Homo sapiens: one gene and its partners. The protein of the gene in region 3 interacts with the protein of the main gene of each other region in a pairwise test. Each region holds a gene or a part of one and is shown on either strand. Other genes may lie near its edges.

Evidence for each region.
Region 1: the proteins of CLCA4 (region 3) and MCFD2 interact in a two-hybrid assay, tested with the Homo sapiens proteins (one large-scale study listed by BioGRID).
Region 2: the proteins of CLCA4 (region 3) and THAP4 interact in a two-hybrid assay, tested with the Homo sapiens proteins (one large-scale study listed by BioGRID).

Annotation. Positions count from the first base shown.
Region 1 is NC_000002.12:46,905,807-46,909,455, forward strand, and holds part of MCFD2 (multiple coagulation factor deficiency protein 2 isoform A precursor), read right to left. Parts: intron 3,372-3,649; 5' UTR 3,366-3,371; coding exon 3,217-3,365; intron 2,873-3,216; exon of another isoform or gene 2,164-2,872; coding exon 2,004-2,163; exon of another isoform or gene 1,078-2,003; intron 1-1,077. UniProt on the Homo sapiens protein: The MCFD2-LMAN1 complex forms a specific cargo receptor for the ER-to-Golgi transport of selected proteins. Plays a role in the secretion of coagulation factors.
Region 2 is NC_000002.12:241,627,120-241,630,768, forward strand, and holds part of THAP4 (peroxynitrite isomerase THAP4), read right to left. Parts: intron 1-3,649. UniProt on the Homo sapiens protein: Heme-binding protein able to scavenge peroxynitrite and to protect free L-tyrosine against peroxynitrite-mediated nitration, by acting as a peroxynitrite isomerase that converts peroxynitrite to nitrate.
Region 3 is NC_000001.11:86,545,688-86,549,999, reverse strand, and holds the start of CLCA4 (calcium-activated chloride channel regulator 4 precursor), read right to left. Parts: upstream 2,923-4,312; 5' UTR 2,881-2,922; coding exon 2,722-2,880; intron 732-2,721; exon of another isoform or gene 715-731; coding exon of another isoform or gene 709-714; intron 1-708. UniProt on the Homo sapiens protein: May be involved in mediating calcium-activated chloride conductance.

The DNA of each region.
Region 1 (3,649 bases), on a different chromosome or scaffold from region 3:
AGAGAGAATATGTATTATTGAGTCAATTTATCATAATCCAGTTTAGAAATTACATTTGCCAGTTAAAAGAAGGCCCTTCAAAATAGGCTTTTGCTTATTTGTTTCATTATGGCTCATTCTTCTTTAATTGGAAAAGTGCCAGTCCTCCTGAGGGTCAGCTCTGTGCACAAATTTGCCTGATAAAATAGAAACAGTGACGAATTGGACAACAAGTTGGCATCAAAACAAGAGGAAGAAGGCACTGCCGATGAGCAGAACCTGTTATGATCTTTGAGGAGAAAGTATTTCCCATGCTCCAAGAGCAGGGTTAGTGGGCTGAGGCTGTTCACATCCTTGGCTGGTTCTTCCTTTGCCACATCTCCCACATTCACCATTCCCTCTCCTGTCACCACCACTATCCTCATCTGCCAGGACTGCTGACCCCTAATTCCTCCGCCTAACACTAGTCTCTCCTCATGTCCTTCAGTCTGTCTCCCACAACCAAGGATCTTCCCTAAACAATGCCATTCTCCTGTGCAAAATCATTCATGCTCCCTGCTGCCTTCAAACCTCACCTGCACTCCTAGCAGCGAATGTAATCCCACTCACCTGGCTAACTTTGCCTTGCTTCCTCTCTATAGAGGGCAGTGTGGCAGAAGGGGAATGACATTAAATGTGGAGGCACGAGGATTTTTTTTTTTTTTTTTTTTTTTTTTTTGAGACAGGGTCTGACTCTGTCACCCAGGCTGGAGTCCAGTAGCACGATCACAGCTCACTGCAGCCTCGACCTCCCAGGCTCAGGTGTTCCTCCCCACTACCCTCCCACCCCGTCACCCCAGCAGCTGGGATTACAGGCAAGCATCACTATGTCCAGCTAATTTTTGTAGAGACGGGATATCACCATGCTGCCCAGGTTGGTCTTGAACTCCTGGGCTCAAGCGATCCTCCTGCCTCAACCTCCCAAAGTGCTGGGATAATAGGCATGAGCCACTGTGCTTAGCCTGGCACAAGATCTTGATTTCAGTGTCTTCACCTAGAAAATGGGAGGGTTTTGTTTGTTTTTTGTTTTCTGAGACAGGATCTCGCTCTATTGCCCAGGCTGGAATTCAGTGGCAACATCGCAGCTTGCCACAGCCTCAACCTCTCAGGTTCAAGTGATCCTCCTACTTCAGCATCATGAGTAGCTGGGACTACAGGCATGCACCACTGAAAATGGAAGTATTAACAATGCCTGCCACTGCCTACTCAAGATGTTGCAAAGATCCAACGAGATCTCTAACCTACTTGAAAGGGCTTCAGAAACTTTGGAGCACCATACAGTATCACACAAGCCCTCAATTACTGCCACGTCCCTGAATCCCTTGGTGTCAATTCACCATTAAACAACTTCTCCCTTGCTCTGCAGTTTGAATACGGTCTGTCTTTTAGGCACTGATTCTCATACTCTGGTGTGTAACAGAAATGCCTGTAGCACTTAAAGATACAAATGCCCAGCCCTGGGACTTCTGCCTCAGCAAGTTATCCTTTGCGGGAAGGATCGTTGGACAGAAAGAGGCAGAACACAGAAGAGAAAGAAGCAGCAGCACCTTTTTTTTTCTTTTCTTTTTTTCTCTTTTTGAGACAAGGCCTCACTCTGTTGCCCAGGCTGAAGTGCGGTGGCATGATTATGGCTCACTATAGCCTCGACATCCTGGACTCAAGCAATCCTCCCACCTTAGCCTCCTGAGTACGTAGAACTACGGGCATGCACTACCAGGCCTGGCTAATTTTTTAATTTTTGTTTTGTTTGTTTTGTAGAGACAGGGTCTCACTATATTGCCAAGGCTGGTCTTGAACTCCTGGCTCAAGTGATCCTTCCACTTTGGCCTCCCAAAGTGCTGGGATTACAGATGCGAGCCATCATGCCCAGTGGAGAAGCAGCACTCTTGGCACATAAGGACAACACAAGTCAACAAGACTGGGGACCAAATTAACAAAGGGAAGCCTTTCTGTGATACAGTCCCCCAAGCCACTGCCAGACCTACCTCCTTATGGACATGAGTGATGGCTGTGGAGAGTTCTAAGCCATCAAGCAAATTATTGCCATCATAATCATGCATTTTGAAGTAATGGAGCTGCAATTCTTGTGGCGACATCTCCGCCTCTGGTTTGTTGATGACACCTTCTAGATGCTCCATGATATGCCTAAAAATCAACAGTCAGGTTCAGGCCAATTGACAGATACTGGGATCATGCTGAAATCTTAAGGACTCTGAAAAGTTCAAGATCTTAAACTTCCTCCAGCTCAGAAAAACAAACACCAGCAGTGGCAGACCACACTCAAGGATTACACAGAGATAGACAAGGCCTTGAGAGGAGCAGGAAAAGTCAAATAGACCATCTGTTATGCTGGCAGGATTAGGGTATTCTTTCCTCTTTATTATTAGAATTTTGTTATAACATTTTCAGGCCATCAATTTAAAAATATGTCCTTTAAAACTTTTTTTTTTTTTTGAGACAGGGTCTCACTCTGCCACCCAGGCTGGAGTGCAGGAGCGTGATCTTGGCTCATTGTAGCCTCAACTTCCCAAGCTCAGTTGATTCTCCCACTTCAGCCCCCCAAGTAGCTGGGACCATAGGCATGTACTGCCACATCCAGCTAATTTTTTGCAATTTTTTAGTAGAGACAGGTTTTCCCTATATTGCCTAGGCTGGTCTCGAATTCCTGGGCTCAAGTAATCCACCTGCCTCAGCCTCCCAAAGCACTGGGATTACAGGTGTGAGCCACTGCACCCAGCCTTAAAAACAAAGGATAACCGAGTATAATGCGTGAGGCTAACTGGCCCAAGACAAAAGCTGCAACAAATGATTCAATGTTTGAATGTGTTGATTTAAAAAAGGTCTTGTTATAGTCAAGAAACCTTAGCTATTTTCTGGATTCTGCTACTATGACTGTGTATGTGTACCTGTGTGTCTATTTGTATGTGTGTGTGTCTGTCTGTGGTGAAAAAAAGGAGAGACCGGATTCAGACAAGTAATGTGCCCCATTTGGGCCTAAAGATCTTCCACCTGTGATACAATGATGAAAAAAGAATACCTGACTTATAGGTGGCAATAAGGAATAAGAATCATCCTTGAAGAATGTCAAGGAGCCATAGAAACAGGAAGAAGGAAAGGAGGACTGAGCATGCCCTTGCCGCTGGCTCAGCTGCAGATGATGGGGAGGCCACTGGACCACAGCCCGGGCTGAATACGTACTCTTGGTCGTGCACTGTGTTCTTATCCAGGCCCATGCTGCCGGGTTGGGAGAAGCTGGCTGCAGGCTCCTCAGCCCTGGCGCCTGGGGCACAAAAGGCCCAGAGCAGGCCACACAGGAAGGGGGTTCTGAGCAGGGATCTCATGGTCATCAATATCTGTGAGATGGGAAACACAGAAGAGGAAGGCAGAGCATCAGAGCAAAGGTTTCGTTCAGGGCTTGACATGGTATGATCCTGGGAAACCTGATGAAGCAGTAAGGTTAGGAAGAGAGCTTGTCAAACACGGCCCAATGCCAGCTCTGCTTTGAGACTGTGGGATGACCCTGGGCACTCCAAGTCACTCAAATGGCAGGGGAAGGCTCACGAGGTTTCCTGAAGTGCCTGCAGAGTGCCAAGCAACACGTGAAAGCTTGAAGGGACTGGAAGATTATTCT
Region 2 (3,649 bases), on a different chromosome or scaffold from region 3:
TGATTAACATCTTGCATTAGTGTGGGTATGTGTGTCTCAAGTTACGAACCAATACTGATTCATTGCTACAAATAGGGTCCATAGTTTACATTAAGGTTCACTTGTTTTGTACTTGGATTTTGACAATCCAGATTTCAAGAATTATATGTAGATAATGAATCCATAAAGGAATAAAAAGAAAACAGATTTTGAAGCAAGTGTTAAATTGCTGAACTTAGGAAACAGGTGAATAATATTTAACAGGCGTTGGTATCCTTACTGTATCAAGAACGTTTATAACTCAGTGGGCAAGCAAGACCGCGAACACGTGGTTCATAGACGTGCTAACAATGTACCCTCAAGGAATCGCTGCTGGCGGAGAAGAACACTACGTCCACAGAACGCCACCGGGCACTGCCTCTGGAGCGTGGCTTCAACCCACCTCTGAAGCCCACTGGCCCGCATCCTTCAGTTTGGGGAACCTGCCCAAAAGCAGACACTGGCTAGCGAGCTGAATAGACAAGTGTGCGGCGCTTTCCACATAAATCCCTAAAGAATGACCCAAAGAGTCTGTCACTGAAGAACAAATCCACACGGACAGCAAGAACCACAGAGTGCAGACCCCAGGGCCTGCGACGCCGGCGTGACAGACTGCAACCCCAGGGAGAGGATGTCCTCTCCCCACCACACCCTCGCTCCTGCCACCCCTGTGCCCACACCGCATGCCCAGCCGTGGCCTGGCCTCACCTTTGGAGGGGCACAAGGCATGCAGGGTGGTGCCTGCACCTGTCCCTTGCTCTCCAGAGCCTGGCCCTTCACAGCCCTCCCCACTGACACACTCTCTTTGGAGCCACACTCCCTCTGGCTCCTGTCTACTTGCCTCACTCCACTTCACGGCCAAACCTGGCCCTGACCCCTCATCACTGGCCCCCTCTCCGCCCAGCTCCACCAGCCTCTCCAGTGAGATTCCAGTAACCAGCGACCCTGGGAGCACATCCAACCCCCTTCTCTCCACTATCCTGGGGCACATCCAGCCCCCTTCTCTCCATTCTGGTCAGAGTAGCACCCAGCACAGCAAGTCACCCTTCTTTCCTGAACAACCCCTCAGCCTTCCCCTGGACCCGCCTCGGCTGCCCCTCTCTCAGCGAGGCCTGCTCCTGGGCCGGGCACTGAAGCCCAGCCTAGAACCACACTCGACCCCCCAAGGCTTCAAACACCTCTGCCCTCCACCCCCACACTCACATGCCCAAATCCCAGAGGCCAGCTGCTGGCCTCAGACTGCCTGTTCAAACTCTGGCCTCAGCACCCAAGAGCATCTCAAACTCCGTTCCTCACCCCCATCTCCTGCTCCTCCCCAAAAGCCTCTCCCACTTAGCATCCTCCAGGTGCTCAAGCCTAATCCCTGTAGCTGGCCTGCTGATCTTTTGCCTCTCAACCCCCTGAACCCAGCCAGTACTCCAGCATTGCTACCACCGCCACTTCCTCCCTAAAGTCTGAGCCATCGCCATCTACCCTGGGACTGCCACAACAGTCACCAGCGCCCCCCTCAAAACTGTACTGGAATAGGATTTTTTTTTTTTAAAGTCATGGCTGGGTGCGGTGGCTTACCTGGCCAACATGGCAAAACCCCATCTCTACAAAAAAAAAAACAAAAAACAAAAAAAACAAAAAAACAAAAAAACACACAAAAAATTAGCCGGGCATGATGGCACATGCCTGTAGTCCCAGCTACTCAGGAGGCTCAGGTGAGAGGATCGCTGGAGCCCAGGGGGTCGTGGCCGCAGTAAGACGAGATCATGCCACTGCACTCCAGTCTGAGATTGTCTCAAAAAAAAAAAAAAAAAAAAAAAGTCATTAAATACTGCCAAAAAGGAGGGGAAACTTGGATACAGCAAACAATGGTAAATAAAGTAACCAGTAAAATGTATACTTCAATCTAATAATCATGGTTGCTTGATGGGGGAATAAGAAGCACCGGAACTAAGATGACATACAGCCTCCACCTAGGGAAGGTGGCACACAGGACCGATCAGCTCTCAACAGTTACACAAAGAGGGGCTCACGTGTTTGTTTTTAAAACTGAAAGATGGGCTGGGCACAGTGGCTCACAATTATAAACCCAGAGCTTTGGGAGGCTGAGACGGGAAGATCCCTTGAAGCCAAGGGTTCAAGACCAGCCCAGGCAACATAGTAAGACCCTATTGCTACAAAAAATTTTAAAAATTAGCCGGATGTGGTGGTATGTGCCTGTAGTCCCAGCTACTCGAGAGGCTGAGGTGGGAGGATGGCTTGAGCCCAGGAGGTCAAGGCTGCAGTGAGCTGTGATAGGACCACCACACTCCAGCCTGGGTGACAGAGCAAAGCCCTGTCTCTTAAAAAAAAAAAAAGAAAAGAAAAAATTGAAACATATCCACTAGAAGAATAATAAGAAAACGGTGAGGAAGCCTAACAAATTAAAAAGGTAGGCCCGAATTCCCACTTATCAGTAATCACAATTGTAAATGACTAAATTACTCTACAAAAAGACTTTTGGATTGAGTTAAAAATATAACTATAAAATAAGATGAAAAGGTTGAAAATAAGGAAATGAAGAAATAAGACGTTAAACGGGACAAAAAGGAGTTTCTTGTGTTGGTAACAGGAAAACTTATGCATCAAACAGCATGGTCTTGAGGCAGAAAGCAAAACTTGGACATACAAGCAGAAACGGGCACCTCCAGAACCACAGGGGAGGTCTACCTCACCTTTCCTGGAAATCAGCAGACCGAGAGCCTGACAAGAAGCTAGGGAACGCTCTGGTCCGCTGACTAACACAAGTAAGCAAGTGCCCAGCTTCAGGCGGGAACAATATAACCAAGGAGTGGTGAGGATACATTCTTCTAGCACTACACTGCAACAGTCACAAAAAGGGACTGTGTTAGCCACAGTGAAGTCTCAAAGGATTCCAAAAAGCAGAACTCCTTCAGTCCTTACCATTAGACCTTAATGCAATCAAATTTTAAAGTAACTACAAAAAAATTTGCTCCCCTCGCCCAATCTGTGTGCACTGAAAAATCTGTCAACACCCTTTTAAATAACCACAGGGTTAAAGGGGGCATCGAGGCTGGAATTACAAACGACTCAGAAATGAACAGCAACAAAAGCAGAGAGAGGCAGATCCATGGCACGCAGCCCAAGGAACAGCAGAGCCACAGCCTCCATTGCAGGGTTAAGGAACACGCCAGGAACCAGAACTACAAGAAAAAACCCAACAAAGCAAAAAGATGTAAGGATTAACCAGCATAAACAACAACTCAGAGACACGAAGGGCTGGCTGTTTGCAAAAACCTGTAATGGAGACAAACTTCAGGAAGTTTAACCAAGAGGAACAGAGAGAAGCTGTCTAAAGCAGCATTAGCTCTGATAACTACAAACAGCTTTAAAATTCCAAGAGAAGCTGGGAGGCCGAGGCGGGTGGATCACCTGAGGTCGGGAGTTCGAGACCAGCCTGACCAACATGGAGAAACCACTGTCTCTACTAAAAATACAAAATTAGCTGGGTGTGGTGGCGCATGCCTGTGATCCCAGCTACTCGGGAGGCTGAGGCAAGAGAATTGCTTGAACCCGGGAGGTGGAGGTTGCGGTGAGCCAAGATTGCACCATTGCACTCCAGCCTGGGCAACAAGAGCAA
Region 3 (4,312 bases):
CTCTATATTACATAGAATGTTATATTTGAAAGAAACAGAAATCAGTGTCCTTGGTTTAGTCCTGGAGCCTTTCTCTTCTCCATCTGTACTTGCCTAGTTATCTACACCCAAATTTTCATTCTTCATCATGAATTCAGATTCCTGCCTCCATCTACATGGATGTTTTCAGAAGTAACATAAATTCCAAAAGCCCCAACCAACTAACTCTTGATTTTCCAAATGCCAAATTTTCTCCACTTACAGTCTTCCCCTTCTCAATCCAAGTGTTCAAGCAAAACTCTTGAATTCTTCCTTGACTCTTATTATATTTCCTTCCTACCCTCACCTATCCCCTATACATCTTAACCACCATATCACTTTAACAATCTTTACCACAACCTCCCTGTTCCTAGTCACCATCACTGCCCACCTGCAAGAGTTTCCTACCTGGGGTCCTTCTACACCAGTAAGCTGCCACAGAGTTTATAGAGGATGGGTGACAAGTGGAAATTCTTTACAGTCCTTAATATTGCAGTCAGAGTGATTCCTGAACATGCATGAGAACACACCCTTCTCTGCTCAGAATCCTCCTATGGATTTTCATCACAGAGTCAAAGTCAAAGTCTTTCTGGTGGTCTAGGCCCTGCCACCTCTCTAACTTCAGCTCACCCTATGCTTCCTCCTGCTCATTCATAGCTGTTTCCTTGGTTACATCAAACGAATTCTCACCTCCATGCTGTTTTTCTCCCCTAGTTTTCAATGGGCTCTTCTCTCGCTCATCTCAGGTCTGTGCTGACACATCATCAGTGAGGCCTTCCCTGACTTCCCTCATGAAATAGCAACCCACATTCTCCCCCAATCCAGCCCCACCTAACACTCCATATCCCCCTTCCTGATTTGTTTTACTCCACAGCAACCTACTACCACCATCTGACCTGTGATCCATTTACTTATTAACTATATCTCTGAAAAGAAGATACACTGCATGGTGCCAGAGGCTTTAAAAAAATTTTACTGCTCTTTAGCATGTCATAAACATTCAACAAAGAATTCTTTAAAGAACAAATGAGTCCAACTGCTAACTTACAGATCAAGAAACTCAGTGTCAGGGAGCCCTGTGCCTTGTCTTCTGTCTTGTGGTGACACAGTGTAGAACCCTGTCTAAAACCTTCATCTCCCTCTGCCCATTACCATATTGTCCTCACTGCACCACACTGCTTTTAACTTCCTGAAGGACTCAGAAGTTTCCATAATAATTATTAACTATTAACTTTGTTTTCTTCTCCATAATTCAAACAGAAGACATCCCAATTCTTTTTTTTTTTTTTTTTTTTTTCCAGAGAGGGAGTCTTGCTCTGTTGCCCAGGCTGGAGTGCAATGGCGTGATCTCAGCTCACTGCAACCTCTGCCTCCCGGGTTCAAGCAATTCTCCTGCCTCAGCCTCCTGAGTAGCTGGGATTACAGGCATGTGCCACCATGCCCAGCTAATTTTTTGTATTTTTAGTGAAGGCGGAGTTTCAACATGTTGGCCAGCCTGGTCTCGAAATCCTGACCTCATGATCTGCCCTCCTCGGCCTCCCAAAGTGTTCAGATTACAGGCATGAGAGCCACCGTGCCTGGCTGACATCCCAATTCTTGGGAAAAATATTTGCAAACTATTCATCCAACAATGGATTATTATCCAGAATATACAAGAAACTCAAAAACCTCAAAGACAAAGTAATAATAATAATAATATTTTAAAATGGGCAAATGATCTGAATAGACATTTCTCAAAAGAAGACAAACAAATGTCCAACAAGTATATGAAAAAGTGGTCAACATCATTAATCATCAGGGAAATGCAAATCAAAACCAGAATGAGACACCATCTCAGCCCAGTTGGAATGGTTATTACCAAAAAGACAAAAAAAGTGCTGACAAGGATGTGGAGAAAGAGACCTATTATATACCATTGGTGAAAATGTAAGTTGATACAGCCATTATGGAAAACAGTATGGAGGTTCTTCAAAAATCTAAAAATAGAATGACCACATGATTCAGCAATTCCACTAGTGGGTATATATCCAAGGGAAAAGACATCAGTCTGCACTTCCATGTTTATTGTAGCACTATTCATGATGGCCAAGATGTGAAGTCAACCTAAGTGTCCATCAAGAGATGAATGGATAAAGTGTGGTATATAAACACAAATGAATACTACTTAGTCACTGAAAAAAATGAAATTGCTTCATTTGTGGCAGCATGGATGAGCATGGAGGACATTATGTTAAATGAAATAAGCCAGGCACAGAGAGATAAATACCACATATTCTTATGCATATGCAGGAACTAAACCAGGGTATCTTATGGAGATAGAGAGTAGAATGATACTTATTAGAGGCTGCAAAGGATAGGGGAGAGAAAGGAAATGAAGAGAAGTTTGTCAATGTGTACAAAAGCACAGTTATGTAGACAGAATAAGTTCTAGTATTTGATAGTACAATAGGAAAATTAAAGTTACTGATAATCTGTTGTGTATTTCAAAGTAGCTAGAAGAGAATAATTATAATGTTCCCGACACAATGCAAAGATAAATGTTTGAGTTGCTGAATATGCTAATTACCCTGATTTGATCTTTACAAATTGTATACATGTATAGAAATACTACTTTGTATGCCATAAATATGTACAATTATATGTCAATTAAAAATAATAGTAAAAAACTAAAAATTAATGAAAGATATTCCATTTTGTTCTTACCTCTATTTGTTCAATTATTTTTTCATCTTCTGGCACACTAGGATCTATAACAATGACAATATCTTCAAAGCCATTATTATTCAGCTTAATGAAGGAAGTATTTGACTGGTGCAGCAGGCACAGAACTAAGAGGAAAACAAAACCTCTGAATAACCCCATTGTTCCTCTCTAGTTATTCCTGGCTCAAATGTTGGTTTGTTCAAGAGGCTTTTCTTTTCTTTCTCTTTATATACGTTCCTAAAACTTACCAGTATTGGCTGATTATGGGATGTTGACTGTATAAAGGTACATTACATGAGAAAATACATGACTAATTCACCTGATTGCTTAATTATATGTTACATAAAAGTGACTAAGAGTCAGAATAAATCAGATCATTTTATAAAATGCATTGCACATTTTCCTGTTGGAACACGTTTTCTTTATTGTTGTCATTGTTGATATTCTAAGGGCTCCTTGACAACAGGGATTTTTTTTTTTCAATAGGTTTTTGGGTAACAGGTGGGGTTTGGTTACATGAATAAGTTCTTTAATTATAATTTCTGAGATTTTGGTGCACCTAACCACCCGAGCAGTGTACACTGTACCCAATGTGTAGTCTTTTATCCCTCACCTCCCCCTCCTATCCTTTTCCCCGAGTCCCCAAAGTCCATTGTGTCGTTCTTATGCCTTTGCATCCTCATGGCTTAGCTCCCACTCATGAGTGAGAACATATGATGTTTGGTTTTCCATTTCTGAAATTGGCTGCTGCAAATGCCATTATTTCATTTCTTTTTATGGCTAAGTAATATTCCATGGTGTGTGTGTATGTATGTAGGTATATGTGTATATATATATATCACATTTTCTTTATCCACTGGTTGATTGATGAGCATTTGGGCTAGTTTCATATTTTGCAATTGCAAATTGTGCTGCTATAAACGTGTGTGCAAGTATCTTCTTCATATATGACTTCTTTTCCTCTGGATAGATACCCAGGAGTGGTATTGCTAGGATTGCTGGATCAAATGGTAGCTCCACTTTTAGTTCTTTTTTTTTTTGAGATGGACTCTCACTCTGTTGTCCAGGCTGGAGTGCAGTGGCGCGATATCGGCTCACTGCAACCTCCGCCTCCAGGGTTCAAGGAATTCTTCTGCCTCAGCCTCCTCAGTAGCTGGGATTACAGGCGTGTGCCACCATGCCCGGCTAATTTTTGTATATTTGTTTGTTTGTTTGTTTGTTTTTTAGTAGAGATAGGTTTTCACCATGTTGGTCAGGCTGGTCTTGAACTCCTGAACTCGTGATCCACCAACCTTGGCCTCCCAAAGTGCTGGGATTACAGGTGTAAGCCACCACACCCAGCCCACTTTTAGTTCTTTAAGGAATCTCCATACTGTTTTCCATAGTGGTTGTACTAGTTTACATTCCCAGCAGCAGTGTAAAAGTGTTCCCTTTTCACCACATCCATGCCAACATCTATTATTTTTTGATTTTTTGATTATGGCCATTCTTGCAAGAGTAGGGAGGTATCGCATTGTAGTTTTGATTTGCATTTTTCTGATCATTAGTGATGTTGAGCATTTTTTCATATGTTTGTTGGCTGTTTGTATAC